Regions from separate parts of the Homo sapiens genome. Here region 2 is linked to region 1. Evidence: fine-mapped expression QTL. A gene starts in region 1. The other region holds a variant in brackets. All regions are shown on one strand. Distances are from middle to middle.

The links. PIP is the estimated chance that this variant, and not a neighbour inherited with it, causes the effect.
Region 2: its variant is the best candidate, but not a certain one, in a credible set for the expression of CXXC4 in cerebellar hemisphere (GTEx, PIP 0.52).

Annotation. Positions count from the first base shown.
Region 1 is chr4:104,487,797-104,504,860 of GRCh38, forward strand. CXXC4 (CXXC finger protein 4) reads right to left here and starts at 7,098. Exons shown (of 3, transcript NM_025212.4): 1 at 6,905-7,098; 2 at 2,948-4,263. The coding sequence starts at 4,006. It overlaps CXXC4-AS1 (CXXC4 antisense RNA 1), which reads left to right and starts at 3,169. Exons shown (of 10, transcript NR_125926.1): 1 at 3,169-3,264. RefSeq lists enhancers at 344-533, 4,536-4,585.
Region 2 is chr4:104,877,501-104,894,564 of GRCh38, forward strand. It overlaps LOC105377351 (a long non-coding RNA gene), which reads left to right and starts at 15,399. Exons shown (of 2, transcript XR_007058213.1): 1 at 15,399-15,467. It also overlaps the pseudogene RPL6P14. RefSeq lists an enhancer at 2,081-2,130. The variant GC/G (reference allele first, on the strand shown) is at 9,879.

The DNA.
Region 1 (17,064 bases):
AAATATGATCAAGGGGTGATTTTATAAACACATTTCTAGGGCATCATAAGATGCTCTTAAGGTGAGACTAAGCAGAAAAATAGAAGGCAGTTTTAAAAGGAACACTAGGGAGGAGGCTTTGAAAAAAATCTGGATGAGAGTCCCAACATATCCATGTGAGTCTGTCTTAATTTCAGTTTTCTCACCCTGAAAAAAAATCTGACTATGTCTCCAGTCTTTGGGATGAGAACAAGTCAAAGGGAAGAGTGGCACATGAGTCTTGAAGTGATAAAGAAGAATATATGTTATTATTATGATCCAGATGTTAATTGGCACCCATAATTCAAAGCCAACAAATATTAGCTATGGAGTTTACATCTGGAACCCACAGGTGATATCCACAATGAGTCCCCAAATCACTGCCCTCAGCCAGGAACCCATCCAATCTCTAAAACATTTTCCCAGATGAGGATGGACCAAATTTAAGAGAGAAACCAGGTCAGCAGGGGGACTTTTCACCTTCCTGCAATTCCTCTTCCAGCTTTGGTTCAGTCATGTAAGCCCTGTCACTCTGACATGTGCTCAGCTGGTTTCCTACAACCATAACTGTGTATTTGCACATAGGTCTAAGGCAGTCATGATGGCATTGTCTTTTTTAATGATCTAGATAGGATCTTATACAATTTTGAAAAAAAGCTTTTTATTTCTTTTAGCCAAATAGTATTCCGCTAATAATCTTAGCCTTGAAACACAGCCCATGCTCTGATAGAAGGGATCTGAAGTTAGAAGATCAGCTTGAGAGTTCAAAGGAAAAAATCAGCTTCTTATTCTACCCATACCCCACCTTGTGAAGAGTAACAGAATTTTTGTGCATGAGAATTTTTTAAAAAGAAGAAAATGTAGTTTTATGGGATTTTGTCATCAAAATGCCTGAGGAATTTAAATATCACAACAAGCTTGTAGGAAAAGCATCAAATTAAAAAATTACACCAGCATAGAAACTTGTGCAGAAAACCTATTGGTACTCATATCAAACCCCTGCAGGGTAATTATTTACTAAATAAATCAGAATTATTCAGTTACTACATATCTTAAATTGGGATGCAAGTAGTGCCACGAGTCTAGCTAAAGATGAGGCCTAACAGCAGAACCAAATTTATAATTCTAGATACTACATTTCAAGAGGAAAAATAAAAGCCATGTTGTCCTTATCAGCTGGGAATAGAGAATTTCAGTATGAACTGAATTTTAATTTCCCATAGTCCTTAGAAGTTACAATAAATTAATCCGGCAAAGAAGATTCAAAAGCTATTTTTTGCCACCTAAGAAAATACATGGACCTGCATTATAGTTGCTATTATATTTGCACAAAGAAAGTTGCCAAAGAAAATGTAATAAACCATCCAGGAGTAAAGTTAAACTTTCCAAAAAGAGCTGATTTATCTTATAAAGAAGAATAAATGCAATATTTTGATGAAACTGATCATACCCAATAATGACATCAACATAATTCTGATATTTTTAGAATCCTAGAGGGCTATCTCATTTGATTTACACAATTAAAGGTTAAAAAAAAAACTGTATCTTCTTTGTGTTCAAACCTGTACCAAAGATCTTTAACCCTTCTCTTTATTCTTTTAAAGACTGCTTCCCAGTTCATAAAGCAAACTCCTCTAAGCAGTACTCACAATTTTTAAAAGAATGTACAGATAACCCTAAGATAACTTGTGAGAGCCACTCTCATCCTGCAACTCACTCCACAGAATATTAAAATGTTAAAGCACAGAATGCTAAACCCACCACCTACAGTCTCATGTATATATGAACATCTAATTATCTACCCTGTAAATTTTATCGAGACTAACTATAAGTACTTGTCCAGATTTCTTTGTTTAATATACCACCAAAGTCATTTACCTGTGATTTTTCATTTTTCCCCATTTTTGTTTTGATCAGGACACAATACAAAATTTTTATCAAAGGTATCAATCTCTGTATTTAGCATAATTCATAACCTAATTTAACAATTACTTTAGTGAGCATCTGTACAATATCTGTTTTAAAGACCTATAGGTAAAAGAAACTATTATTGACCATATAAGGTATCAACCAAAACTGTGCTTGGTGTATACACCAACTTTGTAACCACAAAATGGTTACTTTGTCCAATGCAGAGCCCAGGGGAAATACTTTTTTTGTAACTGAGTTTTAGAAATTATTCATTCTAAAACCACATAAAATAATTTTTAAACAAAATCACTCTTATCTGCCCTGAAATTAACTAATTGTATCCCTTTATTCTAAGTCACATCTCCTCAAAATTTGCAGGTAGAAATCCGCTTCCTACACAGTTTCAGCTTTCTCCAAAAATATCAGATACGCAGAAAATAAAATAGAAAACATTCTGCCTTGATGAGTAGAAAAATGATTCTAGAAAAGGGTAGGAAATCCCCTTCTGAATCCAGGTGTTTCAACTTCATTGAATACTGCTGTGTGGTTTGTTACCGGTTTTTTAATGAGAACAGGCTTGTGTACCACAAACTGTGTCCTCACTGTTATAAATGGGCCACTAACTTAGCCAGTAAACTTGTATAGGATGTGATGTGTCCAGTCCTTTGGGCAAGATGCCCCACCCTTTTTAATGAGGAGGAGGGGGCATTTTAAACCACCAAGGGAAAATATTGAGCATATTGAATGTGAAACTTCTGATTCTTCAATTACATTATTTTTCCCCCAGGGATAAAAAGGAGGGCACTCTCTCTATCAGAAGGGCGGTGTCACGTGAAGTGCAGCTGGTGCGGGTGGTGGAGAGGCCAAGCCTTTCGCAAACCACCTACAACTCTTACCACCTGAATGAAGCTTCTGAGAAGGGGTACTGCATCTTGAAGCCAGACAAGAATCCCTGAAGGGGAGAGGGAGTGAGGAGGGAAGGGGGGAGACTGGGAAACAAGAAATCATCTCCTCTGACCTCTAGTGAAGTGCCAGGTTTTTTCTTTAGCTCTTCACATTTTCTAAATTTGCAGATCTGGTGTCCCGTTTTGCGGTTCCTGCAACTGCTGCAGACGCCACAGTTGATGAGCCTCTTGCAGGGCACGCAGACCCCACACCTTTTCCTCTTCTTCTTGGCTGGGTTGGCTCCGCCAGCTCCCCCTGAGGAGGACGAGGAGGAGGAGGAATGATTCTGCGGGCAGTCTGCCAGATTGGCAATTTGAAACGCACTGTCTGTGACGGCTGCTGAGGCTGCTGCGGGGGAGTGAAGGGCTGTCATGACGATGACCCCTGGAGGTAATGAGATGCCCCCTAAAGCCGGGATAGCGGAAAAAGTCCCCACGCGCTCGGGGAGATTCATTATCTCTGCTTCAGCAGCGCCGCATTTGAGCTTGTTCATGCATTCCCCCGCCAAAGGTCTGCAGTGTTCAGGGGATAAGGTGGAGAGGAAATTAGTATTTGCCATTTGCAACGACGGCTCTGGCGGGCAGCCAGCTTTCCCCAGCCTCTGGGAGTCGTTTCGGTGGTGCATGCTGGTCCTGCTGCCGCCGCCGCCGCCGCCGCCGCCACCGCCGGCGGGGAGGATCGCCGAGGAGGAGGAGGCGGAGGAGGAGGCGGCGGCGGAGGAGGATTTCCTGCCGCCCCCACCACCCCCGCCCCCGCCTCCGCCGCCGCCGCCGCCGCCGCCACCCCCCCCGCCGCCGCCCCCGCCCCCGCCGCTGCCCCAGAGCATGGCGGTGGCGGCGGCGGCGGTGGCCGCGTTGTCGCAGTTCCAGGGGGACATGCCGATGCGCGCGGCGGCCGCGGCGGCGGCGGCGCTGCTGGGGAAGATGGGGGTGGTGATGCGCGCGATCTTGGCCGCCTGTGGGAAGGCGCCCCCGTTGGTCTTGTAGAAGGAGGTGGCAAAGGAGCGGTAGCGCTCCATTTCCGAGTTGTAATCCACAAGGCTGTTCAGAGCCCCCTCGGGCAAGTGGCTTTCCTTGGGCAAGCCCGGGGCCTCCGGGCTCGGCCCGGGCTCCACGCAGACATTGGTGTTCATGGTGCAGGGGGGGAAGAAGGGGTGCAGGGTGGAAGTGGGGACCGCCTGGTCCGACACCTGGGTGGAAAAGGGGGAAAGGTGGGGGGGAGGGAAGGGAGTGATGGTGGTGTTGGGGTGGGGGCCGAGGCGGGTGGGGAAAGTGGGTTCGGGTGGGGAGAGCAAGGTGAGGGCTGCTTTATTCCTCTCTGGGGCTCATTTCCACAGACGGTGAATTCCCAGGCAGCGTCTTCCTTTGCATTATCCTCCAACTGTTACAACTAAAATAAAGAAAGTCATTCCAACGAGCTGCACGAGGAAAAAGATTAAAAATAAACAACCTCCCTCACTAACCCACCGCAGACACCGAAAGCTCCCACATTCTTCCATCAGGTCGTTTGCATAAGAATCATCAAGACGTGACCCCCCCCAGCCCATCCCCCCCAACTCTCCCAACCCCCGCTCCCTCCCTCCCCACAGCAAACCACAGCTCCTCCCCCCTATTCTTATAACCCTCCTGAGAAAATGTATTAATAGCCAGGATACCCAGGGAAAGAAGGAAGACGGGGGTGACAAACGCCTAAGGAAAAGGGCAATTGGAGTGCTAAAGACATGCAAATCATGGGTGGGAGGGCGATACTACCTATAAGCAGAGGGCATTTAAACATTATGAAATGTGTGAACAAGTGCTGCCTGGGCATGCAAATGCTGTAAAGTAGAAAACAGCAATGGCCCTATGAGGAAAATGAACAGGAAATTAGCAAATGAAGTACTGAAAAAGTCTACAATACATCCGAGTATAAACTGTAAGCAAACACAATACAACTGAGAGCTAAGAGACTGCCCACATACAATCTGAACTAAAGAGGCAGGGAAAAAAGAACTACCAGCTGCCACAGTATCCTTCTGTGTCTGCGGTCATTAGTTTGAATCCCAGCACAGCTGGCTCTGTTAGGGTCTTAATTCAATGGACCAAGGACAGGTCTCAATTGTACAAGCCATTTGGTGGTGGGTCTTGGTGGGGGTAAGAGGGTGGTGTTCTACTTGATTTTTTTTAAGGTAGAAAATAAAGATAAGCCAGATAATTACATATATACATATTTATTTATATCAGCAATGTCTCAGGTTTTAAACCAAGTGCCTGCAGCCTCTATAAGAATATTCCTAATCATTCCTAATGGAGATTGCTGTCTCTTCCGAAGACAAGAGGAAAGCATGGGACTTTTTGAAAAGGATATCTCACAATCACTGATTTTTACATTGAGTAAAAGGGGGGGGGGCTTTAACGTGTTCTTTGCCAGAGAAAAATAACAAAATTATTTTTTAATTTTGCTCTTTTTAAGAGGAAAGTTTAATGTTAACTGGGTATTTGCATTAATCTCCTTGCTTACAGGCCATTATTATGCTTTAGGAAGAGGTATTTTAGTTGTTTATTACAGAGGGAGAAGTACATCACAGCCTTTTAAGAAGCAAAGCAAAGGCATAAAGTGTATATTCACTTAAAAAACCAGTTTCTTTGTTTCCAGATTTTTTGGCCAGAATATCTTTTTGTGACATCTTTTGAAGCCCATAGATTGGTCTAGAATGCAGAGTTCAGGGAATTCTACATGGGGGCCCAATAGTCTCCGTCTCAAATATTCAGAGTTCAAAATGGTTATCAATTATAGTAATTATGCTTATAATTAGGTTAATGAACCAGTTATGCCCAAACTCCAAGTGCAAAAACTTCAAGACCTACTGATGAGGTGCTCTAAAAAGAGGGGTTTATGTAAACAAATCCCTATTAGGCAAAGTAAATCAAGATAAGGAACCTCACCCCAGGCTGGATTAGAAGCTTGCAGGCATCTTTCAATCACAGCAAGTCCCTAATCACTCAGGAACCACCTCTGTGGTTTCGCATTAGGGAAAACTGCTGCCTTCTCAGGTCTGAGGGCAATACAAAAGGTGCCCCCAAAATGCTCTTGGCTAAATATTCTTGATGCTTGGAAGGGGTGAGGGAAGACACAGCAAGAATATGCATATAGCTTCAGTTTCTGCGAATCACATTGTAACTGCAAGACCATAATAACTGCTACTCAGTAAAAACTAGTTATGTCAACCATGCATTAGATATCATCACATTGAGTGGAGGGAAAATTTTCAACCTTTTAGTCTTTTGACCTTGTTCCAAATAAATAAATAATTTAACGTCCCTTTTTTAGAGTCTTAGAGTGGTGTTTCCAAACACAAGCTTTCCTTGCTTTTCTGATTGCCATCACCATCCCTCTTCCTACCTCAAGGTTTAATACCACCAGAAACTGTAGAAAATGATTATGCCCAGTATCCAGGTCATTATTGTTTAATCAATGCATCTCTGGAGCATGAAAAAGGTATCTAAGCCACAGCTATTGTTTGGATTTTATTTAAAAACAAAATAAAACACACACAAATAACTATAGTTCTATGCCAAAGCTAAATTAGAGATCCATACTTCATGATCCTGTTTTGCCTTTAAACAATGTGACTTTACATGCCTAATACTGTATGTCTGGTCTACCAGAGACATAGAGATCAAAGGTCATATTTAACATTCAGGAGGAGGGGCGGGTGCAGACTAATTAATAAATTAATACAGCGACGCTTTTTCTTGCTGGAGTCCAGCATTAATAATCTACTTTCACAATCCCAACGGACAGCAAACATTTAAGAGAAAAAAAAGCCAGAGAAAGAGAAAGAACAATCACTTACCAGTCTCTTTTTATTTGGGGAGCCTTAGAATTTGCAGACGCTGCCAGTCTGCCTTTAATTAGTTGCACATCACCCCCTAACACAAAGAAACACAAATCCAGATGTGTCTTGGCAGCTCCCAATTACAACTTTAATACTTGTAAACAAACTGTTGGGGGGGGGGGGGTAAATAAATATGCGGATCAAAAAAAATACCTGTAAATGGCTTTTTTTTCTTGTTGCAGAGAGAAGGAGGAGGAGATGGTGTTAGTGGTGGGGGTGGAAGGAGGAGGAGGTGGGGGGAGAGGAAAGAGTCGAGTGTGAGTGTATGTGTGAGAGCGCGGGTCTGTTGTCGGTGGTCTCTCCTCTCCCAGCGCGTTGCTCTCCGTCCGTCTCCAGTCGCTGTGTGCGAGGGAGGGAGGGAGCCGGGGAGTCTCTCCTCTCTCTCTCCCCTCTCTCTCTCTCTCTCTCTTCCCCTCTCTCTCACCCTCCCCCCTTCTCTCTCTGTTTGTGTGTGTGCGAGTGTGCGGTTGCTGGGGGAGGGGAGCCACAGAGAAAGGCGAGGGAGGAGGTGTGGAGGCTGGGGGCGGGGGCGCGGGGGTGGGGGTGATTGGCGCCGAGGTGAGGAGGACGCAGGGACGTGGACACCTACTGATGATTGGCTGCAAATTACACGGGGAACAAGAGGCGCACGCGGGCCAGCGCTCCTTTTCACAAATCCTCTCCTCGGCAGAGGAGCCACGTTTTCCCTGCTCGCCTGCGGATCGCCCTCCCTCCTCGCGCCCGGCTCTCCGGCTCAGCCCAGCACACAGGGCTGTTGATTATTTTCTTTTGCTCTCGGAGATAATTGTTTGGAAGGGTTGGAAAGAGGGCGTTTCCGCCACTCTGCGTGTGGGGTGTGTGTGTGCGTGCGTGTGCGGGTGTGTGTGTAAATAAACTTGTCTGGGATTTCTGGCTGGGTTGAGAAGAGCAATACAAGAAACAGAGAAAAGGTCATGTTTGTTTGAAGAATGCTCTTAGTTCGTACCCAATGGCATGGTTTTAAATAAATTTCCTGGTGTACCCAGGAAGACTTTAAAAAAAAATACCATTTAGATCTTTAAAGTAAGGGAAAACGGACCGGTGTGGTTCTTCAGACCCTCGAAGTACTATTATGCCAGAATGTAAAAAATCGGTGATATGATGCTTGGCCAATTTCAAAATCCATCTCAATCTCTGTCTCTCTTCTCTACTCTTCTCTCTCTCCTCCCAAAATCCTCTTTTACTATTCCATCTGGTAGTTCCAAAGAATAAATCAGATTTTTAACTCACTGCCCTATTTTTTAATTTCAAACTTTACTTAAACAAAAACTTTTGTCTTTCAGTCTATTTTAGAATAGTATGTAATTAACATTTCACTTCTTGCCACTTGGGAAAACATAGTTTATGAATTGAAACATAAATATTGTACGGCACGTCAAATATAAATAAAACTCGTTCATAAATGCAGCTGTAAATTAACCTCTTCACTGCTGCCTCAAATAAAATATTTGTGGACACATGCTATCCTACTATTAAAGTATACTCTAGTGGAAATAGTTATAAGATACAGAATTATGAATACTTTTGAATAATTTTTTTTCTAAGAGCAAAACAGTGGCTAAGGTAAGTTATAGAGTAGGAAAGAAAAAACTTAAGATTATTTAAATTGGTGTTATCAAGCAGAGTACAAGTTTTGTATTAAAATTAAGTGTTTATTCTAGAGTAATGCAATATTAATTGTTCAGATAAGTGAGGAAAATATAATGTTTTGTTTCTTTAATAAGAAAAAAAAGCTGAAAAGACATTTTAAACCATTTTGTATTTGAATTTTCAAAAGATAGACTTTGACCATATCAAGACATTACCAACTATGGAGGATAAATTGTTGATAACAAGTTTGAAACTGTGGTGTGTGTATGCCTAAATGAAGGTGTTATTTCAAGAGTGGGCTACTATTGCAATAGGAAACAGGTGTATTTTGTGACTCATTGATTAATATACATGTTTTGTAATTTTTTTAAAGCATAAGCTGTTTGATTATTACCGGTTATTTGACATCTATAGACAAAATAACTGGAGGGTTAATAATTATTCAAGTTAATAAGATATTTTTATTCTTGTGCTAATGCATTATAAAAGCAAAAAAGGAAATTTTCCATTTGATTATTTTGTTTTAGCTCAGCTTCATAGGAAATTTATCAGGAAAATGTGGTCACTTTTTAATGAGTGAAAACATGCTAGAAAAATGATAGATTCTTAAACATCTTTTCACAATATTTAAAATATCAGTCCAATGTTAGAAATTTTGAAGTTTATAAATAAGCAATGTTTTTAATCAAATAAAGACATCATGCTTTCTTTTGCCAAATTTTCTTTTCTGGAAATTTTCCTTTTTGGAAATTCCTTTTCTCATGCTTTCCTTTTTGGGACTCTTCAAGCTTACTTTCAAAATGAAATCTTAAACACGTGAGAGAAAATATGTTCTAAATTCCAATGAATTTTACTTTCCAGCTAATGAAGGAAAACTACAGAATTCTTGGTCTTAATAATTAATAATAATAGCCCCTATTAATGACCCATTAGTGTCAGATCCTGCACTAAGTAATTTGCAGATATTCTATTTTGTCCTTGCAATAATCCTGTGAAGTGGCTATTATTTCCATTTTACAAACAAGGAAATTGAGGCCCAGAGAAATGAGGTAACCTAGATTAGGTCACAAAGTTAGTATGTAAAAAGTTTGAAATTTGTACCCAATCTGGTCTATTCCAAAGCCTTATGTTTATAACCTCTACCCTAGTCTCACTGTCAATAATTAATCAATCAATAAACCTTCTCTGGATACTGGAACCTCAGATTTAATTATGATTGTAGGCCCCTAGTTGATATGGGATCAATTAAATTTATAAAAGAAATTATAAACAATATACCTCATGGCTCTGATATAGCATTCTGTTTCCTTTCCACTAGGGAATTGATTGCATACTTAGCCAAATATGATCAAGGGAAATCTTTTTTCTCATCTATCTCATATCCATTAATTTTTTATACTAGTGTAGATACATATATGCACCATGTCTCACATTAGTCTATGTTTGTCTTCTTTAAAATGATATATCAGGGTTTTGATAATAATACCTGAGAACACTCAGTTCTCTGTTAACTCTCTTTAAGTCCACAGTTTTATATGATATACGAAAAAGTGAGATTGTTTTCTCTGCAAAATGCCCATTACAGCTTCCAATTACCTGGAAGTGGTTTGTGCCTTTACCCTGCTTTATGATTTTTTAAAATCTTAGCTAGGAGAGAGTTCAAAGGTTTCATAGCTATCCTGATGGGACTTTTTTTTTAATCCCAACTTGAGCATCACCCAAAAAAAGTATCCCCACTCAGCATAAATTTTATGTACTGCTCTCAAATATCTTTAAAGTACTGCTACTTTCCAACATAATCATGATCATCATTGTTATCCAGAATCTCCAAAAAGGTAGCATATTCTGTTGAAATAAATAGACCTCAAAATTTACCAATGCAAAATCCACAGAAGTATGTGTTTTCTCATGTAACAGTCCAGGGTGGGAATTTCAGATCAGAGACCATTCTTCTCTATGAGTGATCCATAGATTAAGATTCCTTTTATCTTGGGACATTTTATCTCCAAAGGACTGCTCAACTACATCAAGCTGGCAGAAGGGCATGAAGGAGCTATGATGGCTTGTTAAAAGTCTTGGTCTTAAAGTGGAACATAGCACTGTAGCTCACATGCAATTGTCAAAAACTTGTTACATGCCACACCTAGCTGCAAAGATTACTGGGAAGCCAACTCCAAGATGCAGCTTTATTACTATGGGGTAGAGAAACAATTCTGAGGGACAGCTAGCTATCTTCCACGCAGAGTAACACAGAAGGAGAATAATCTGATGAAGTGATTAAGTAGACCACACAGCCCTGAATCTAACCTTGAAATTCCTCTGCTCCCTGGAAGTTATTTTGCTGATTACCACTGAAAACAGTCTTAATGACTTTAGGGAAAGTTTGGCAACTGTGAAAGAACTAAGCTTTCTTAAATACTTGTAGGATAGCCAAGACAAGGTTAGAAGATTTGAACAAGAATTTACTGAAGAATAAAGAAAGCAGAAGTAATACAATCAGAGAAAATAGCATAAATAAAAAATAAACTAACCGAGATAAATCTTGGGGACCTGCAGCTTGTCTGCTGGTGTTTTCAAACCAAGAGGTAATTTTTAACCTCGCACAAATGAGATGTTTCCTATTAGTCATAAGAAAATATACAACATGGAGGTCAGAAAAGGTGTGTGGAGCTTTCTTACCTAATATCCAAGGACTCACATCTCAACTTACATTCATGGGCTCTGAGGACCACCTCTTTTGCCATAGTAATTCACTGTGGATATAGTAAATAACCACATCCTTTATAGAAGGAATATTCCCTTAAAACAAATAGGGAATAATTTCTTTAACTCTTTTGACTGGCCAAAAATCTACCTAGGATTTTTATTTACCTGGCTCCTTTCCCAGAATTTGAGTTGGTTGACATTGGGAATTGTGTCTTATACAGCTTTGTGTCCCACCTCATACCTACTATGCCTACTACATGGCAGGTTCCAAACATTCTGAGTCATGCATATTGAAATAATGTAGTATACACAAAATGTATGGAAGTAAATTCCCCATTGCCTATAGGATAAAAGTGCAAAATTTATAAAATTAATTTTATGAAGCCCTTCTCCAACTGGTTCCATCTTTTGAATCTACTCTACTAGTATTCCTTCCAAGAACCCACTATTCTAGCAGATCCACTTAGCTCAGAAAACTTCATTTGCCTTATGACCAGAGAGGGAGAAAATCTTTAATAATGAACTGTGAGCCAAAATGAAGTACTATTATTTCCATAAAAGAAATCTTTGCATATAAAAAATTATTATAGCATAATGAAATAATATTTTTAAATCCCTTAATTTAACGTTTTCAGAAGTTGTCTTGGTGACTTAACAATTGGGATTTGATGAAGCTACTTCTTAAAATCAATATTCTGCACACCTGTTGTTTTCTTTCACTTCTAATTAAATATTGATACGTTGTTATCACAATGCTGACCTTCATATTCAAAGCTGGTACTTTTAACCTACCAACACAGTAGGTCACATGCTTTGAGCTGTTTTTCCAGCTATCTTTACTCTCTTACCTTGTCTTTCTAATGACTAACAGGAGGCACTTATGGAATGGCTGGCCACTGTTAAGGACAAAAACTGTGACAATTGAGGATAATGAAAATAATGGGTTCACAGGGTTAAACCCATTACGTTGGCCTCATTAACACCATATTCAAATCAACTAAGCTAATCAAGCTTATCACATTCACATATTTTCATATACAGTTTGGACACTAGACAAATATGTACCAAGTATTATTTTGGGCATTAATTTTTAGAATTGTTCTTTGCAAGACCAAATTTGGTCTAGCCCCATTTTAATTTACTCATGATATTTTTTCTCATCATATAAATTCTCATTTCTATAAAACTACAGCTCTAACACTCCATGGAAAGTGCTATTCCCAAACACAGAAATCCAAACTTTCTCTGGTAGGCTAGAAAGGGAAAACTCCAGAAGAATGTTTTTTCTTCTATAGGCTCACTGACATAGCTTGATTTTTATTAGCTATTGTTTTCCTTGTACTTTCCCAAAAATATTTGGTATCCTTTGTTCATTGGATTATTAGAAAATACAAACAATAACATTCCAGATTTTGTCAAAGTATTTACTCATGAAGGAAACAATGGGTCACTTTTGCTACAAAACACCAAGTGATGGTAAATAGCTTCCAGGCACTAACAAATCTAAACTCAGATTTGTAACATGGGCCCCAAGCTGTTCTTTGGGGTCTCCCTTTTCCTTTGCCTGGCAGAATCAAAGCATTCCATGCTGGCCTTTGTCCCAGGAAAATTCTCCTTAATCATGCAACTACCTGTGTGCCTTCTGGAAAGATAAATCTCTTCAGATAGATAAGTAATGGTAAAGTAATATAAAGTGAGGAAATCCTGTGGTGAAATTTGTAGTTAAGAGCTAACCAGGAAACACTTTGTCCACAGTGCTCAGTGTGCCAGTAGTCCGTGTTCCCCTGACAGCAGTCCAGAATGTGGCGGTGTCACTTCCTTCTGCTGTCGGCCATTCTCTTCTGCACACAAGTCTTCTTAGACAGAATTTATAGGACACTGGAAATCAAGTAACATAGTCCCCTATCTCAATTCTTCGAATTCTCTATCAAAACTCCAAACTCAGTAACTTAGGAAACCAATGTTCTATTAATACTTCGCTCAACAGGAAGAAGTGGACCTTTTATTTAAAACAAGCTTACATGCAGACACTGGACATTTTATTAAGAGGCCTCTGAATCTTCAAATTGCTAGACAGGACTTACCCAGTTAGAAAAAAAAATCTTCAATTTTTAATAATAGAGTTACTTCAAGAATGTACCTTGTAAAGACATAAAATTAGGTTTATAAAAGTCATATTGTTAAGCTCTGTGAAACTCCAAAATTAAATCTGTCTTAAACCATTTCCTATTATATAATATCACCATTTTTGAATTTGCCATTTTTAAGTAGAATAAAGAAATTTTTACAAAATGGTTGTGAACACAAAAATTATATTTTTTTCCCTGGAGATTTTAGACTTCCAGTGTAACCTAGATATCTCCATTTGCAAAAGTTCAGGTTTCTTAATATTAGTCTCAATATTTTATTTGAAATCAAAGCCACTCTTCATGCTTGTTTTTTTTTAAGTGTGTTTCCATTTAGTTTATCTTCAATTAACTCCCTTTTTAAAAAAGGAATTCTATTTTTCTTTGTTGAGAGGAAGAATTCAAGATAATATCCCTGAGTTGTTAACGTTCAGTCCAGAAAGGTTTTTTTCCTTCCCAGTGCTGACCTTTGTTATGCCGTAGTTATAGCAACAAGAAGAGTTCCTTCTGTCTGTCTGTTGTGTTCTCTTTCCAAACTAATGACAGTCTTTTATATGCTGTTGTGCAGTATGGGGAATGCTTTACGTGCATTGATTTCTTGATTTACTGATGCATTTAGCTAAACCAGCAATTTGAATGGAAATTTTTTAAATAAATGCAATTAATTGAAATGGAATTTGCACATTATATATGTTATTTATGGAATACAGATCATTCATTTAGGCATTTTTCTAGATTGTCTTTGAGCTTCCCTGACCAACTTGCAGTTTAACTTCTCAGTGATGAAGTTTATTTATCCTATCATTATATCTTCTTAGTCGAAACAGAAAGAAAGCAAAAAGAGAGAGAGAGCCCCTTCTAGGGGAGTAACATGATGTAAGAACACTTAGTTTTTCTGCCAACCTGGGTCATACAATCATTATGACCTTGGGCATTCTACCTCTCATTTTACCGATCTGGAATATCACTTTAATTACAGTAATTACCTATCTCACAGGGTTTGTGAGGTTTAATTAATGTTAGCAAAGTGTTGTAGCTATTTAGTAGAGCAGTACTATAAAAAGCAAACTACCTGAAAATCACAACTATGTTCTCCCCACATAGTACTTAATTTTACACAATCCTTTTCTTTTTCCTTCAGAGTTAATTTAACATTTATTGCTTTTTTTTTTCTGTTCACTCCATATCTACATCTATGGTCTTTGCTACTTGAGACTTACTTTGGATGTAAAACATAGCCTCTGTCCCACTTTTGTTAGATTGCACGATCACCTCCAGGAGCTCAACATTTCTGAATCTAACTGGATTGGGATTAACAGTAGTATCTGAGCAAGTAGCTGTGGCTACACACTTCCTTTAAGTCCAGTTATAAACTGCCAGTTAACAATATGAGTTTGGTTCTCAAATACCTTTTGTTTGGAACCATGGTGTTAAACAAACTCAATTAGACTTCCAGTTTTTTTCATAAGTTGGAAGTTCTGAAAGTATTGTGTCTACATTCCATCCTGGAAATAGTAGCTGTAGCTATTATTAGTGATGGAGTCTCCAGTTTGCCGGCACTTTTAGCATTCCCTGCTGTCTGACACTTGCCCACCTAAGCATTGGAATTTGTAACTCAAGGCATCTAAGTACGCTTGTGCTAGCTGTTCACTGCACAACAATGCCTGGCCAAATGGGCAAGTAGGAGCTGGAATCCAGCCCATTGCTTTGCTTGCCAAGCCATGTTCTGGTGGGTCTAATTAGCAAAAAGGCATTCTAGGGGCTAGAAATGGCCTTATCAGTATCCCCATTATAGGCCAATTAAGTAAAGCAATGAACATTGCAGCCACCTTTATTCATATTAAAAAGTTAGCATCTCATCTTTGAAATTATATCCCACAAGATTATATTTAGATTAATATTAAAATCATATTCAATTTTATCTTTATCCCTTTTTTGTGAACCAATTTCACCTAAAACATATTCCAATATGAACTAATTTTCAAATAGGATGTAAATAATATGAAATTTTCAATTGTATGAACTCATTACCACTGAATCAGGAGTTATGTTTCATTGAATATCAACAAAATGACTAGTAATGTGAGTTGGATCGTCGTAATAACATTGTATTTCTTTCTTTGGGAACAACTACTCTTTAAAAAGAGGGAGACACTGTTCAGACCCCAGTTCTTTCTGTTATCTGCTAACATTTTATAATGGTAGCACTGCTTGAAAGAGCAGTTGTTTTTACCAATTTGTAACTTGGCTCTTTTAAAATGCATGATGATACGATGGCATTTCCTTTAAAATGTTTCTATTTTAAAACATATCCTATTCCTGTAATTCTTGGCTACTTTGTATTAGTGAAAAAGAAACAACTCTGTTACCTAATGGGAACACTGATTGATTTACATACCTTTCTTTAGCAAGTATCAAGAGTCCAAAATTTGAAGAATGTCCAACAAAAGCTAGCCTCTAGATATTTTACTGCATGCTAATCTCCTTGCAGAGGAAATCCAGACAGGTATATTCATTTGTTATAGAAAACAAAATAACTTTATTCTTTAATAAAGAATAGATAGAAAGAAGGTTTTGAGAATTCTGAGTACATGTAAGAGAAAATTACTCAAACTGGCTTAAATGATGAGGTCTCTTGTAGGGCAGACTCCAGGCAAGGAACAACCTGTGTGGCTTATAGATATCACACATAATATAGGCTTCTTCCATCTCTTTGCTCATCATTCCTATTATCTTATTTTTTCCTTCAAGCAGTTCCCTCACAGTTACTGCTCCAACATCATAATCTATGCATAAAAAAGCGTTAGGGAAAAGAAAAGGACTTTCTTTTTTTTATGCGTTTTTGTCTTTAGAGTGAGGAACTTTCCTAGAAGCACCATCACTGACTTCCGCTAAGATCCAATTACCCAAAATTGAGTTACCTGATGACACATAAACCAACCATTTTCAAAGAGAATGAAATTGTCTTATTCTTAATAAGTATCTACCAGCCCTGGAACTAGAGGTGTAATCATTCTGAAACACATGACGGTGTGAAGGATAGGAAATACCTGAACATAGCCATGATTTGTTTAAGAAGGAAGAAGAAGATAGGGGATTGGATGGTTGTTGGTGAGACCAGTATCAGTATCCGTTGTCTTATATAAGTCTATTATCACTTGATTTTTATTGTCTTAGAAAAACTAACCAGCCCTAAATCTCATGAAGCATGCCAGATTACATATAATAAGAGAAAGTCAGTTTATGGATGCCAGCTCTTTATTATGAGTTAATTAATGAATTATAATTACAGCCATGAATGCCTATAAGCAGGATTTATTTTTAGCAACATGGCTTTCCTGGCAAAGTTTTGATTTACTGACCTATCTTTATTGAAACTTATCTCATGTTCATCATTACAGACCTTTTATACTATGTTACATAAATCAGGGAGTATCTGAGCTTGATCTATAAGGTATAGGGCTATAGGATGTGAGGAGAAAGCAAAGAGAATGAGGAAGTTAAAAGAAATTAAGAGAAACAATTTAAAAAATGGCAAGGTACATCTATTTCCATAATTAAGTACATCTGGTATATTTTCATCTTATACCTTCTACTGGCCATTAAAACTATTACCTTAACATATTTGCAAGTAATCAGAAGCAAAGTAAATAGCCAGTCCTTAAAATTTCAAGTTGATCCCCAAACTGACTCAAATTTGCAAAAATCTGGCATAATTTAAAAGTAAATAAATAGAAGCAACACTTAGCAGAAGGTTCCTAACATAAACAAAGCTGTGCACGTTTTGTTTATTTATGGGATCTATGCAAAGTGTCATATTCATTTAAAAATATTCAGCACGAGAGTGATTGATTTTAAAAATTGAATAGAATT
Region 2 (17,064 bases), 390 kb after region 1:
AGACTTTTCACTCCGTGAATGTTTTGGTTATTCTTTTCTATAAAAATAAGAAAATAAAAACTTTGAAAAGTTCACTGAATTAGGTAACAACTTTTACCAGATTTTATTTCTATTATTGTTTAGCTATCAAAACACAAGCTTTAAGAAATCTGGACACTTCATGAGCCAAGTCACATAAGCATAAACATTGACTGTTCATGTATATAGGTACCAACATACACATGAATCTAAAAATGTACTTTGAATTGATTCTGGAGCACTTTTTGAAGTTCAATAAATGCCTTAGAATCAGCTGGAAGTCCACAAATGGTAATAGTATTTAGCTCATTTCAATAGAAATTATCTCATTAACATGCCAGCTGCTAAAAATGTATGAGCCCAGCCATGTCCTTTGCCTGCCTCAAGGAAAGAAACCATGCTTGCACGGTTTTGGTTAAAAAAAAAAAATCCTTGTTTAAATTGTTAACAGTTGCTCCAGCGTGGCCCATGGCAAGAAATTTAACCTTCTCTCCCTCCCTCCTATATGAGCATTTCCATACCCTTCAGCTAGCTTTTATATTGTCAATGCAAAACAAATTTTCTGACTGCATGTTAAACTATTTAAACCAGCTTTAGCAATAGACACCCTCCTCGGTGTAGTGTCATAGTTTTAAACCTAAACCTCAGAACACAGAAGACCCAAGTCTTCTGTAAAATGATCAAAAGTCTTAAAAGTAATGAGCAATATGAGTGATAAGATCAAAATAGATATTCAGTAAAAGGATCACCTAGCATTAACTAAGCAACTCTTTTAGATTATCTGCTCTATAAATATTTAATTAAGTTAAATGGAAACTTTTCAAATAATTTTCTTTTCACAGTTATAAGGTTTCCTTTAAGGTAGATGTCTTAAGGGACAGGCTTTATTTCTGTATTTGGTCACTCAGAACACTGGGATGTTTTGAAAAATATCCTATAGAAGCTGCCTTGAATTAAAGCAATTTCAACAAATGTAGTTTATACCAGAATTATAATTAATAACAAATATTTCCTAAAATTGTGACCAAATGGAATATTGAGATCTGCATTATTATAACCTAAGTGAATTAAATTTTAAGTTTTTAGAACTGCTCATTCAGTACCAACATTGTTTATTTTGAGTCATTCTCTAAGCTCATATTACAAAAATATAAAATCTAAATTAGAGAGAACACAAAGTAAGAGAAAGAATATTTTAACTCTCATCTATTGATGGATATTAACAGAAGCAGAAGTGGGTACAGTTAAACATCCCACTGACAGAAAGAGGTGCTTTGTTTTTTTTAAGGAGCAGCACCTAACAGCGGAGAAACTATTAGAGAAAGAAAATGTTTATATCCTGGTTTTTCTGCTAACTGGCAATGTTACCTTGAGCAAAATACTTAACTTTTCTTCAAGTTCCTAACTTCTCTAATATGTATAGTAATGTCAGTGATGAGAATGCCATCAGATAGTTTATATAAAAAGCATTTGGAAAAGAAAAAAGCATAAGCTAGTATTACCAAAAGCAGAATAGATAAGTGCTTTGACAAATTCACTGTTTCACTCCAAAAATGTAATCACCACCTGATAATAATGCTGCTTTCAGATTTAGAAACTAGAGAAGAGCTGCATGTATTCCCACTCTGGTATGATGCAGTTATTTTCCTGTTGTGCCAAACAAGTGCTTTGCCCTAGTATTGCAGACTTTTCACTCTGTGAATGTTTTGGTTATTCTTTTCCATAAAAATAAGAAAATAAAAACTTTGAAAAGTTCACTGAATTAGGTAACAACTTTTACCAGATTTTATTTCTATTATTGTTTAGCTATCAAAACACAAGTTTTAAGAAATCTGGTTAACATTTCAAAATACCGTATAAAACTGCTTTTGCTTTTTCTTGGAAAAACCGACTGCGAGTACATCTGAAACCTTCTTGACAAGTTCTCTGAAAGCAATTAGTGGCTTTCTTTTCTTAGTTATAATGTGAGGTTTCACAGAAACTTTTCAAGTCTCCTGCTCCTGTCTTTTTTCTAATGCTTTAAATCCAAATGGCAAGTAGCCAGATTGCACAGAGCTATTGAATGCAGAAAACAGGAATCTCTTCACATCTACAAACCAGCTCTGCCACTTCTGCTCCAGGCACCAAGGAATAAAAAGAGAGAGAAACAGGAAATGTAGAAGAACGGGACCTTAGGTTAAGCTAAGACTCCTTGAGTACTGCACCAAAAGTAAGATCTATCAAAACAAAATTGAGAAATTGGACTTCATCAAAATTAAAAACCCCCTCTTTTAAAAATGCCATTAAGAGAGTGAAATGCCACAGATTAGGAAGACAAGATTTGCAAATCATATATTTGATAAAGGATGAACTTAAAGGATACATAAAGAAATCTCAAAACTCAATAAGAAAAAAATTTTAATGGGCAAAATATTTGAACAGACACCTCCCCCAAAGAATTCATGCTGACTGCAAATAAACAGATGAAAAGATGTTCAACATCATTAGTCATTAAGGAAATGAAAATTAAAACTGCATTGAGGTACCATGACACACCTATTAAGATGAATAAAATTTTAAAACTTACCATATCTAATGTCTATAAGAATGTGGAAGAACTAGAACCTTATACACTGCTGATGGAAATGTAAAACAGCGCAACCGCTTTGGAAAACAGGTAGACAGTTTCTTAAATAAATAAGAGTCAGCCATTTTACTCCTAGATATTTACCCAAGAGAAATAAAAGCAACTGTCCATGCAAAGTATTGTACTTGAATGTTCATAGCAGTTTTATTTGTAATAGTAAAAAAAAAATGGAAAAAATCCAAATACCATCAAAATGTGAATGAAAAAACAAATGGTCCTTTATCCATGTAACAGGCTACTGCTCTACAATACAAAAGAATGAACTGTTGGCACATAATCATATGGATGAATCTCAAAATAAGTGTAATAAGTTAAAGAAACTAGACAAAAAAGAAGACATTTTATATGATCCTAATTAGATAAAATTCTAGAAAATGCAAAGTAATCTATAGGAACAAAAAGCAGCTGAGTGGTTGCCTGGGAAAAGGGAAAGAGAGTGAGAAAGATGGGGTGTAACAGGAAGAAAGGATTACAACAAGGCATAAGAAAACCTTTGGGAGTGATGAATATGTTAATTATCTTACTTGTGATATTTCATGGATAGATACATAACCTTATCAATTTTACACTTTACATATATGCAGTATAATGTATGTCACTTATATTTCAATAAAGTTGTACTTTAAAAAGGAAAGAAAAGGAAAACTCTCTCCAAAGACAATGTTAGGGTACCATATAAGAAGAAATAAACCAAGTTGTCTGCTCTTGACACACACTGAATTTCCTTTTCCTTCTCATATTATCTGCAAATTTATGAACTATCAATGAAACTATGTAGTCTTCATCAATAATATACATGCAAAAGGCAGCAAAACAATTAGCCACTCTTCTCCCTACTTGCCCAGAGAATAACAATGTCTAATGAGCAGCAAAGCATACAGATTTGATTTCCAATGTTTCCCTTCTCTGGGAGCATGGGCAGGTAAAATATGCTTAGACCTTAGAAAATGCTTGTTTAGTAGGCTTGACTAGGGGACAGATGCACAATCTTTTTTTTTTTTTCTTTTTGCCACCAACTTCTGCACCAGTTATCTATTGTCTTGAAGCCTGGATGGCTGTGTCCATGAAGCAGATGGATCAGTTCTATCCTATTTCTAGTTATGATACTCACTGATAAAATAAACATTTCCTCCTTGCTGAGCATTCTTGTTCACATGTGTTCATTTGGCATTGTACCTGCTTACAAGATGTTCTAGCAACATTGGTGCCAAGTCATAACAGTTTCACTCCAGGAGCCTAGGAGTCTTCAAGATATTATATAAGTCTGCCCCTGATCCCTCCCCAATGATGATGATGATAATAAAGCTTTAGACTCCCTGTAATAAATTTTTGATATTTTCAGATAAGTTCAGCTTAAGCTATTTTAATGAAGATATCAGTTTTGACACCCTCAGTGTACAGTGAAGACCAACTCATTCCCATTTCTGTTTCTCCCCTACCGAAGGTGCCAATGGCTTTAATTAAAAGGAAGGGGCTGCTTGCCAACTGGAGCTGCCTCATGTGCTCTATGAAGCTGCCCACCATAGCTGGTGGGCCAGAGACCCAGGCTCTATCCTGGAGTTTGACTTTTGGCTCCTGCCAGAATTCACACCACCTGAAAAGCAGCAGAAGAGAGCCAAGATGTCTGCAGCATGTGGAGCTATTTTCTTGGCACAAGTGCAGTTCAGTTTATACCAGATAATGTTGTCTATATAGAGCATTTCTGCATACATAAATAGGCAGTTCATACAGCCTTGTTAGACACAGTAATAGAGTTTGTACTGAAAATTGACCCAGAGCTGAATTCTGCCAGTTATCCCACGATTAATTCACTGTACTGGCAGAGAAAACACAGCCCTAGCTGTACCCTTGGCTTCAGATTGAGAATCAGCGTACCAGGAGCTCTACCAGTATGGTCCATCTAGTCAATAGAAAGTGAATCTGGAGGTTTTGAATACCTTTCAGACATTCCTAACGTACATTAAATGGGAATACAGCACAGTACAAGCAATGATTCTTCCTAAAATACCATACCCTGCAGAGCTGTGGGTGCTTTTTTGTCACCCTTAAGAGGTTTAGAATATGTAACCAACCCACGTTTCCTGCATCCTTTGGGTTTCCAGTATACAAATACACTCCAAAGACCACAGTGCCAACAATGGGCAAATTCCCTAGGATTCCGACCAGCCAAAGGATTTGGAAACAACCGATTTGTCTTTAGAAGTATCATGAGTATAGTGCTAATCAAAAACTGAGTTTTGGTTTCCTATACTTCTTCCCTTTCCAACACTGTTAGTGTGAGCTTGCTAAATGTTTCTCCTCAGCCTGAAGGTAAAGGGATTCTTAGAAACTTCCCAGACCAATTTAACATGTCTCCAAGCCAAATTTTAGAAACAAAGTCGCATTTTCATATTTAAAAAAACCACCCAGTTCCTATTTACTTGAATTACTGCTGATTTTAGACTAAATTGAAATATTGGATATTTGGTTACTCTGTCTCCTATGATCTTTTTTTTTTTTTTTTTTTTTTTTTTTTTTTGAGACGGAGTCTCGCTCTGTCGCCCAGGCCGGACTGCGGACTGCAGTGGCGCAATCTCGGCTCACTGCAAGCTCCGCTTCCCGGGTTCACGCCATTCTCCTGCCTCAGCCTCCCGAGTAGCTGGGACTACAGGCACCCGCCACTGCGCCCGGCTAATTTTTTGTATTTTTAGTAGAGACGGGGTTTCACCTTGTTAGCCAGGATGGTCTCGATCTCCTGACCTCATGATCCACCCGCCTCGGCCTCCCAAAGTGCTGGGATTACAGGCGTGAGCCACCGCCTATGATCTTTTAAAATTACATATTTGCCAAGGTGAAAGTTCTCAAGTTTTTTTTTTTAATATTTGGTGCGCATACTGAGAAAATACCAGTTACTACGCTATTACTATGAGGTGCAAGATTAAAACTCTGATTATTTTCCACTTGTTAAGGAACTGGAAATTTTCCTTGTTGACAGAAACAATTTTTGAAAGTGAAAACCAAGCAAAAGTTGATACATTTTACAGAGTATGTCTCCAAGCAGCTCGCATAAGAGTAGTAAAGTCATGTAGTTACAGTCGTGTTCCTTCTTATTCAGGCATTTCCTAATATATCAAAACAGCTGCTTACTTAGTGAAAAGGTCCACGCTGGCATAGTCTAAGTGTTCATTCTGACTGTTCTTGGAAAGAAGTGAGGCTGATATAGGCTAGTAGTTGGTGTGTGCAACACAGGTGCTTCTGCTATTCAGTTATCAAGTATTTTTAACCTCATCCCAGATTATAAACTGTAATTGGTAATAAATTGGTAGCACTTTTTTCCTCCACCATAGTGCCATGTTATACACAGCCACCTTAGAGGATGCTTGTCATGGGCTAGATTGTGAAGGGGAGAAAAAGACAACATCCTCCCTTGAAAACAGGAACATGACAAGGATATAAGTTGATTCACTGTGGTATTATTACTTTGCCCTGTTTCTTAATTTTTTGCCTCTTTCACCTTTGAGACCTTGAGGCTTTCATTGCATTTCTTCATCACAATATAAGAAAGTCACAATCGAGGCTGGTAATAATAACAGCTACCATGAGCTGAACACCTGCGGTGTCAGGTCCTGCATTAGCATTTTGCCCATAAGTCCATACAATCCATAATCTTCACAACAGTCTTCCAAGATAAGTATTATTACCCCTATTTTATGTACAAGGAAACTTCCGTTCAGAGAGGGCAAATTATTTACCAACAGACATACAGAACTAAGTGGCAGAGTGGAGCTTCAAACCCATGAGTTTCTTCCTCCAAAGCCAGTGTTGGTTCTATTACACATTATGGTGTTCCTTCCAGAAAAGTTATAAGGGCCATTGAGCTCTCCTTGAGAGTCAGCGTGTTCACTCCATTTCTGCCACAGCTTGCATTATGAAGCAACCAGCCATTCTCCACCATTGAGGGTGAATCTTAATTATTTTCACATGGTTGTGTTTGCTACTATAACAATAATACCCCCATGCATGGCTAATCAAGAAGTGGCTTGTTTCTTACCAGAAAAAAATGGCTCTGGAATTCAGGATCTAGTGAATTCTTATAATTTTATATTGCCTCCGTATTCATTTTAAGTATAAGTTGGACTTTCTTATACAGAAACAGGGCATAGTCACTCTTGACAGTTTCCAATTCTCTGCCTCCTACCAGTTCCTCAATGTGATTGATCCAGATGTTTGCCTTGTGCAACAACAACTTCCTGGTGACCCTTTCCACATGGGACAGCTAGGTCCAACCTACTTGACTGTCCCCACAGACCTCCCACTCTGTTCAGATATGTCACACTGACCACTTCTCAGTCATAGCATGACGTCCTGGAACACGTGCCTGCTTGCTTTAAACCCACCAATTAGAACTTGCCCTGGGAAACCTGTTTGGGTAACACCCTGAACCCCAATAAAGGCTTTGGTCCTCTGGTCCCTCCTCTCTCTCTTGCTCCCCACCTGCTAGTTGAGCATGTGTGTCCCAGACCCCACTGGTCCTGCAAGACGTATTGCCCTCTTTTCTCTAAGATTGGTAAGTAGTAAAAATTTCTTCTGTTATTTTACGTGTTTGTTGTGCTGCCACCTCTGTCTCACCTGACTAATACATCTGAACCGAACTCTCCTTCTGATCAGTGCTGTTCTGGAAGGTGGCTGTCTTGGTAGGGATAAACTGGGCACAGATTAGAGAAGAACCACAGTGCATCCGATGGCATAAACAAGTTTCCCAGGAGAGGGACGCCTGGTCACAGGTCAGATACTTAGGTGTTAGGCCATCCGCCAGGATAAAGAAGAATCCTGTGAAAGCCATATTGTAAACATCAACTATGGTCACTCCTGGAACCCCATCAGGGCAAGGCTAGAGCTTATAGCCACTCTCCAGAGGAGACCTCAAGACTGAATTAAAAGTAAATACAAGAGAGAATATAGTCTGGAACAGGCCAGATATAGTTGGAAGAGAAAGACAGTTGGATGAAGATAAAGGGGCTAATTTTTAAAGTTACTATTACAATGATGGAGACATTTCTCAGGCAATCCTAGAGTTTGTTTTGCTTAAATAAAGTGACGATATAAATTTCTTAGTAAGTCAGGAAAAAAACCTTCTGGATTTAGGACAGGGAGACGGATTCAGGACAGGGATACTTCAGCAAAAACTGTTGTAGCTGAATTCTCTGTTCTCTATCAATTCTATCTATTGTCTTCAGATTGATTTATAGCTAATATAGTAATATAATTTTTGTCATACTCAGAAGTGTTATTTTTCAAACTTGAAAAAATTATTCTTCCCTTCTAAAAGAAAATAATAATCATGGAAGCTCCTTTTCATATTAAATAAAAACTTCTTATGCTTAGAGATAAACAACATTGATAATAAAATAGATGTAGTCAAAACTATGAATATAATAAAGTTATCAACTTAATTTAACATAATGTTATTTTACTAAAACCAAAGTGTTGGTTATAAATAGTAGATATTATTACAGCTTCAAGTCTGATTCTATATATAAATTTTCTGAATTCAGTGATCTAATGCAGAAAAATGCCTTTTTAACTTAAGTACATATATTTAATAACTTTAAGATTCCTTTGCTACTTCAGGATAGTCAGACCTTAGATTCAATCAAAACTCAATAACAATGTATTTTCACAAGCTGATGTACACTCAATAACTATATAAAAATTTTTACTTAATTTAATTGAAGATTAGTAATATGGTATGCAAGTTAAGACTGATTTGGTAATTGATATCAAAATACCAGTTATTTAAATGTCTTTAGTTTTTTTTCTTTTAATATTCTTATCATAAAAGAAATCTTGAAATAGCCCATAACTGATACAAGGAACCCATGATATCATCAAGAATTCTGGCTGCTATAATTCTGCTCCATTGTTATAAATCCCATCTTCTACTTAAAAATATATTGGTTATTTAATTGGGTTCTTTGTAAGAAATTTACAGCACCAATATTTGAGGATAAACTCCATTCATTGGGGCAAACAGATCACAGGTAGCCCTGGAGCTGACAGCTCGCTTTGATTTTTGGTAAAGTTTGTGAGTCCACAGCTCTCTGATCAGCCTTGCACTGCTCTATAGTCTTGTATTTCTCATTTTCTTGGTCAAAAATCTCACCTTCCTAGTGTCTGTGTTTCCACAGCTGCTTTTTCTTGAAGTATACATCAGTGAGATGTTTTGGGATTTTCACACTGCTGATATCAATTTTTGTGGAAGTGCCAATGACAAATTTTTGGTGTGTTCTTCATAGAGGAACTAGATTGAGGACCAGTATTCCAGTCACAAGTTGCAAGCCATTGCCCAGCTGCTTCAGAAAAACCACCTGCTTGCCTCTGTGGCATTCAGTGAGGATGATCAGAATGGTCCCAGGAAAGATGCTAGCCTATAGTTTTCTCACATGCCGATTGAAGGGTTTCTTGCTGTGGCTCAACGGCTTTGAAGGCACATCTTCAATAGGATCATAGCTACACATTATGCAAAGTTTAACCACCGGGTTACCACCATTCTTGTCACCATCAACTGGTTTTGTAACAGTTGCAAGAATCTTTCAATTCTGTATTTAGCAGTTGAGTACTTCTTGTTCATGGCCTTTTGGGAATACATGGCAGACCAAAAATATCTGCCAATTCCTGTGATGAGAACAGGACCTTGGCTGCAGTGGGCCTTCCTCTTCTTGGACTTTTTAGCCTGAAGGTTAGCCTTTTTAATGTTACCACTGGCATCAGCCTTCTTGGCATCAGGTTTTTCCTCCTTAGTATCCAGCTTATCAACTTTTTCGTCTGCCATCTTGCAAGATGGAAAAGAAAGCTGTCTTTCACTTTTGTTTCATAGCCCATGAAGCTCATGCTGGAGTTCCAAACATCATATCCACAGTCACGGCAAAAGAGGGAGTAAATATAAAGGGATAAAAAAAAATCTTCCCTACTGACTTGGTTCCCTTTAAACAATCTTCCCATAATTTCAACAAAATATTTCCACTTACATTATATTTTCCAAAACTTAGTCACATAGTGATACCTAGTTGCAAAGAAAGAAGGGTAATGTCGTTTGTTTGTACATTTTTAATTTCTAGGCCACAATGTGCCAGGTTTGTTACTAAGGCAAGACAGGAAAATGGATACTGAAGTAGGAACTATCAATCTCGGTCATATGTTTTATTTTTTAAGTCTGCATTATAAAAATCTAATGCATCTGTTAATATAATCAATA[GC/G]ACATTCACTGCTAATAAACTATTGCCATTTGGTCCATACAAGAATGACACACATTGGATATGCCTACTTACAATGTGGAAACCTCTACAGTGCAGGTTCCTTTGACTTCTACTTGCCTTAACTGTTATATGCAAAGTGGTGATTCAAGTCTACAATTATTTTTCTCTGCTAAAACTCTAGCAAAACTTTTATTGATACAGCACATGACAGTTGTCAGTTTTTAATATCACCTCCCAGCATCCTGAGGGATCATAATTATCTGATTTTTTATAAAGAAAGAATCAGAGTTTTATAGAGATCAGATAACTCGCCCAAAGTCATGTAACTAAATCCAGAGCTGGACCCCACTACAGATGCTGTGCTCCCACAGGGCTCCTCATAATGATCCAGAAATCTGTGCAAACCACCTTTGACACAGAGTTATTTCTTCAGATCTAGGAATCTAAAACACACTGCATAGCCACGTAACCCTATACAAATTTCCCAGTGGCTGAAAATAATCTGTTTTCCTTGGCACCTCAATTTCAAGGCATCACGTAGATACTAGGTAGAGTAAGTGCTACACTACCAATAATACCACTACTATAATAACAGTGGAGATATATTACTTTACTCTTCCATTACACTGTTGATGATAAACACACAAGTTTTAGTAATTATTATAGAAAAAAAGCACATCAATGTGGTTAATAACATTAATTCTGGACCCACACCGGCTGCTTTTGAATTGCAATTCCAAGCTTACTGGCTGTGTTGTCTTTGTTCAGCTAATCAATTCCTCTGTGCCTCAGTTTCCTAATTTGTAAAATGTAGACAGTCATAGTATTTATAATCCAGGGTTGTTAAAGTATAAATGGGTTAACAATTAGTATTTACCATAGTGCCTAATGCATAGTAATACTATAGTGTTTGCAATCATTAAGGAAAATAATGTGTTACTACAGTTATTAAAATCATTCTATGGAGGTGCATAAGGGAAAGATTATCATAAATAAAATACTTTAATGTGAGGGTCCTAAGGAAGGAAGAATTCAGAGAAACATACATACTAAAACACATTTGACAATCATGTAGAGGCTAAATCAAATAATATCTTAATATCTTAGATTCGTTACTTATTTTGGATAGACTTTGTCCTGAGCTAGTGATACAGAAAAGGATATTTGGATATTTTGTAGCCAATAATTGTAGACTTTAAAATAAGGTATCTTTGTTGTTATTCAGACTGCCAGGTTCACATTAGAAATAACAACTGGCTATCTGAGAAAAGTAGGAAATTAGCCTTTCGTTCGGGTGGGAAGGGAACATTCAAGCACTTGAGAAAGGTGAGAACTGTCAATGTAAAGCAACACTGACAACCAAAGATTAACGAGAGGACTAAAGTGGGATTTTTATGAGCATTTTCATAAAATTTTCATTTTCATAAAATTCATTTCATTCATTTCATAAAATTTTCCTTTTCATAAAAATTTTATTTTCTGATTAACCTTCTGTTATCCTTCTGCATTAGGACTTCTCTTACCTCCCCTGATTTTATTTTTCAATTTGATGTCATATGTATCATATTTATAACACATCGTAAATAAACAACTAAACAAATGTGTTTAGAATGTCTCCTCATTCTGTTCATCAGAGGCAGTTAAGGACAGCCCTAGTCTTAATTTTATAAAACAAAGTAAAATATTCATGGAAAAATAATTACTAGAAGAAAACAATGTATTTCTGAGTGTTGTTATAAAAGGGTTTTATTTTCACACCAGTGAACTCAGTCATGTGGCTTCTGAGAAGGAAACACCAGAGTTCACTTCCTCCCCTCCTCAAAAGAAAAAATAATGGGTTCAAAACTTTAGAACCAAAGGCAAGAAATCCCAGAGAAAATAAACCAGTTATGCATGAAGAACCCTAATACAGTTTTGCGTATTTTAAGACTGGACCTATAAACTTGCTTTAAATCTTGTTCTTCATGTGGTTAAACTATGTCCCACAAAGTTCAGAAGCGAACTTCAACTCCTTTTCCTCTTCTTCATGTGCTGGCCAAACCCTCAAACACACCACATCAGACATGCAAACAGGTGGATGTGATTCCCTGAACAGAGTAATTGATAGAGTTTAACAAGGAAGTCTTCCTTTCCTCTTAACGTGTACAAGTATGTGTTACTAAAAGGAGCCATGGCTCTCAGGCAGGATAAGACACAGATGGTAAATCTTGGAAGACGAAGAAATTGAAGAAATAGGTCCAAAGCAACATAATACAATAGCTGTGAGTCCCAAGCCCTTGTGCTGTCTTAAGCTGTACAAGGGAATCTCTGTGTCCTCCCTAACTTAGGATCCCAACAGCCTCTCAATCTTGGCATATGTGGAGACATCTGAGACCACATTATGTCCTGGTGTGGTTCATACAATTATCCACACTCTTCCCTTTATAGGCTCCTTCTTGTTTCCATCTGACCAATTTCTAATGCAGTATTACCCATACTGGAGGGCAGGAAATAGCATGAAGAACCAGTAGAACTCTATTAACGGTGGTCAAAGTTTTGATAGTGAAGAATGAGAATTAGAAAACAATCTCTTCTGTCCACAGGTTCTGTGGCCCTAATTAATACATATAATGGAGAAATGGATCCCACTTGAGTCCCAGAGCTATTAAAAATAATTCTAAATTATAATTTTTGGACCTAAACTTTTCCAAGCAGTTATTTTATTTGGTAAATCCATTCTTTCTCCAGGACTTTATGTAATACCTTTGAGTAGGCTGTCTTAATGCACATATGCAAGACCACTCACATTTGTGATAAAATGTTGCTTGTATTTATTATAACATCCATCCATTCCAGGAAAAGAAAAAAAGCAAAGTAAAAGTTGGAATTTACAAATTATTTTGTGCTTTTTTTTAATTGGACAAGTTCTAAGATTTTAAAAGAGTGAACAAGGTTTTGCTGCAAGTAATGCATTTATCCAATCTCACCACAAAATGTAGAGCACATAGTGTCCAGGTATGACAGGACTGAAAAAAAAGAAAGAAGCTACAACTGCACATTTTAGAATTGACTCCAACTTAATCTAAAGTATTTCTGAAGCCTTGGTCATTTAAAAACAAATGGTGTCCTTGATTCAGGACTCGATTTTTTAAAAATCTATACTACGTGAGCCCTTGGAGTATATAGATTAGTTGCCCTTTCTTTATAATATGAAACTACTGTTTTCTATTCTATTCTATTCTATTCTATTCTATTCTATTCTATTCTATTCTATTCTATTCTATTCTATTCCTCAGAGGTTAACAACCACACTGTCACATATGGTTGCCTCTCCACCTATTCCTATACAGGGTTAAGTACCTACTGATTTCTGACTGGGGTTTGGGTTTTTTTTTAAGATCAAGTGTATTTAATCTGAGAGGTCAGAGTGTGGCAATACAGCTACAGCCTGGGCATTCCCAGCAGGAGGAAGGTAACATCAACACATTTTGTCTACAGAGCCAAGCATGAAGAAAAACTACAATTAGCCTTTGCTGCTTTTCTGCAGATCCTTCATTTGCATTTTAAATTACATTTTGGTGTATTCATTTTCATCTTTCTTTTGGCTTTTAAAGCTTGAACAGAGACTCCTGACAAAAACACTGCCTAAGATTGGCATTTATTAGGGGAAAAAAAACACATCCACATGATTTTTTTTTCTAAAATCTTCCTTTGAGATTAGTTATTTCAGAAAGTCACGTTGACAGGCAGATGGAGAGAGAGATGCAAGATGGTTTCAGAGATTCTAGGAATCTCAACGCCTGGATTTTCATTTTAACATTTCAGTTTCTTACTAGTCAGTAAGTTTCTCTGGCTGACTATATTAAAATGTGTACTACTGTAATATATATTAAACTTGCTCTCCTGGTACATACTGACAATTACACAGTTTATCACACCAATAAGTTTATTGAAACAGAATCAAAATTTTTTGTCTCTTAAATCCTTGTAGAGATGCTCTTTCTACAAATATGTTAGGCTCTCTCTGTTATCTCTCCTCTTGAGTAGCCTAAATACTATTGATTGGTGATAGCCTTCTCCCTAAGTGGTCACTGGGTGTTAAAATGTAAAGCAAAACAAAAATTCACATAAATCAGATTGTGAGTTTATTCTTCCTTCTTTGAAAGGGGTCAGTGCCTCCTATATTAAATGATTAACACACTTAACAGTCTCATGGACTCTTTGTCCCATAACTTTATGGATGGCTAAACCCCAAAACACCTTACTTTTAATATTGTTATTAAAGGACAGATGTTAAAAGAAAAAAAAAAACTAAAGATTGAGCCATGTGCCAAGGGAGAATAGAAAAATAGTACAACCAAACTGTCAGTTTTCTAAAGGAGATATTAACATGAAAATGTACTGTTATGATTGACTCAAGTGGACTTAAAGTTTGATGTTGTTGGATATTTTTAATTCTCTACATCTTATTGGTATATCTTATTAGAACATGTCTGAGCAGATTCTAGTCAATATTTCTCCAGCTCTCAATGGTTTTTTGCAATAGTTTCTTGTGGTGCAATAATAATAAAACTTGTTTAGGTTTGAAGCACTTTTACATGCATGCATTGAAAAATATTGAATATAAATAGCACTGAATATAAATAGCCCTATAAATAGCATTTGTGAAAAACACAGAAAAGACCCTGGTCTCAAAAAGTTTACTTTGCATTTGCAAAAGGGTTAGTAGGAAATAAATAAAGGAACAAAATCATTTCAGGGAATTATAAGTGCTATGAAAAATAAAGTACACTGAGGAAGTAGAACGATGTAGGCATGGTGAGGCTAATTCAGATGGAGTGATCAGAAAGTCCCATTGATACTTAACACTTCAGCTCCATGACAAGGACACAAGTATGAAAAGGTCTGGGGTCCGAATTTGGGTAAAGACTATGACACGTGTCAAGGTGGTGGCACAGGAATAAGCTTGACGTGTTCAGAGAAGCCACAGCAGCTCAGGGGCAGCAAGCAAAGGGGAAAATGGAAGGGGATGAACTCCAAGATAGGGGAAAGAATTACACTTTTATGGCATGAGAGGCTATGGGGCTATCCATTTCTGTGACATATCTCCAAACTTAGTGGCTTAAAACAAACATCTTATTTTGCTCACAATTTGGAGTTCAGCGATATGGGAAAGTTCTTCTGGACATTTATCTCTGATGCGGGTAGTATTACTGGGGCAGCTAAAGCTGCAAAACTAGGTGATTTCATTCAATGTCTGTTCCCTTGGTGCTCTTTGTTCACATGGCATCTCCTATTCTAGGGCCTCTCCACATGGCGTGCTCTTCTCACAAGTTGGCATCATGGCGGTCTCGTGGCTGTCTCTAACTACTGTTAGACTTATGTGATGACTGGTTTCCCCCAGAGCAGGCCTTGATCCAAGCTCCACGCCTTCTTATGACCTCTCCTGGAAGTCTCAGAACATCACTCCTGCCACTTTGCCCTTTTTGGTTAATCATACAAGGCATTAAGGCCAGCCCACATTCAAAGGGAAGAAAGTCAGACACTTCTCTTTTCTATGGGAATGTCACAGAATCTGTGGCCATCTTGAACCTGCCTCAGAGGCCATGGTAGGTAATCTGCATTTTATTCTGAGTGTTATGGGAAATGGCTGGAGACTTTTCAACAGAGAAATTACATGATTTTATTTTTGTTTTTAAGAGCCCATTTTGGCTGCTAGATAGAGAATAAATTGAATGAGGACAAGAGAAGAAGCAAGGTAACCAGTTAGAGGTGATTATAGTTTTCTGGATGGCCTACGATGGAATGGTAGCAGTGGAGAAGGAGAAAGTAAATATGGGGTACATCTTAACGGACTTGTAGTTGGATAGGTTTGGGGGAGAAGAAAAAAAACAGGATGACTCCAAAGGTTTTAATGAGGACCTGGAAGGATTGTGGTAGTATTTACTGAGACAGGAAAAAAGGGGTAAAGTTATTTACATGTCTCATATAATTGTCCCAACAGCTCTCTAACATGGAGGTTCAGTTAGTTATGTGGTAGGCCTTATTATCCTCAATCTTTCCTCAGGTGAGAACAGTGGGGTTCTTAAAGAACAGAAGGAAAAGAAGGAAGGGAGAGGGAAGGAGAGTGGTGAGATGGGGAGAGGGAATAAAGAAAGTCTTTCCTAAAACACTTAACTAGATAATGGGAGTACTGGTCTATAATAAGTTCTGTTATCTAGCCAACACATCTTCCCATTATACAACATAGTTAGCTGTCAATCATTAGTATAACAAGCTGAGTTTTAAATTGTTTGTCTATTCTTACTATAAACCTACTCAAAGAATGTTTCCCTCTGGGTAAAATAGGAACAATGAAGATGAACACAAGGAAAAGATACGTTCTTAGTCATTACAGAACTTAAACAGTAGAATGACTAAACCTTTCAAGGTTCCCAACATTTAGATCTAATTGATTTGGATTTTATGTCTGATAAACATCACCTTCTAAAGATGAAATTTTAAATTGAGAAAAGTGAATAGAGGGGGTTGGAAGTTCTAGTTCTTATTTTTTCTGCCTTTGGCTTAATTAAGTTTATCAAATTTTCTTAAACTCTGTGCTTTAATTTTTCTCATCATCAAAACATTACTTTTATCAACCATATTTTCAATTCCTTCACTTGTTTATGAGTCAGCCCTCATAAGGACAGTTGTACTTGTCTCCCACCCATTCTCATGCCTGTGATCACTCCTTTCACACCCATTAACTCATCTTACACATGTAATAAGAAAAGTGCTGGGGAGAAAGTTTTTGTAAACTTCAAAAAAACAACTTATCATTGTTATTACAAATTCTTCAAAAACATTAATTTTAAATTTTAATTTTATTCCAATGTTAGCCTATTACTAAATCTTTTTAAATCCAAAATAACCCAGTATGACTCTTTGATTGTAGGTAGAGTCCTTTTACTGCCACTGCTGTGAACCACATCATTCAGTATGCAGCACTTCGAATTTTGCCAAAGTAATCATGATGTATGAAAACTCGCAACGTGGTAAAAACAACAAATATTCTATGAAAATCTTAGTCACCAAGACTGTCTGGGACCTTTATTACAATAACATAAATATTAGTCAAATTTTCATAACCATTGATAATTATTTTTATCTCTCATATTCTTGCTTGATATTGAATTGTTTGCCACTGTGGGTACTTTCCATCTGGTG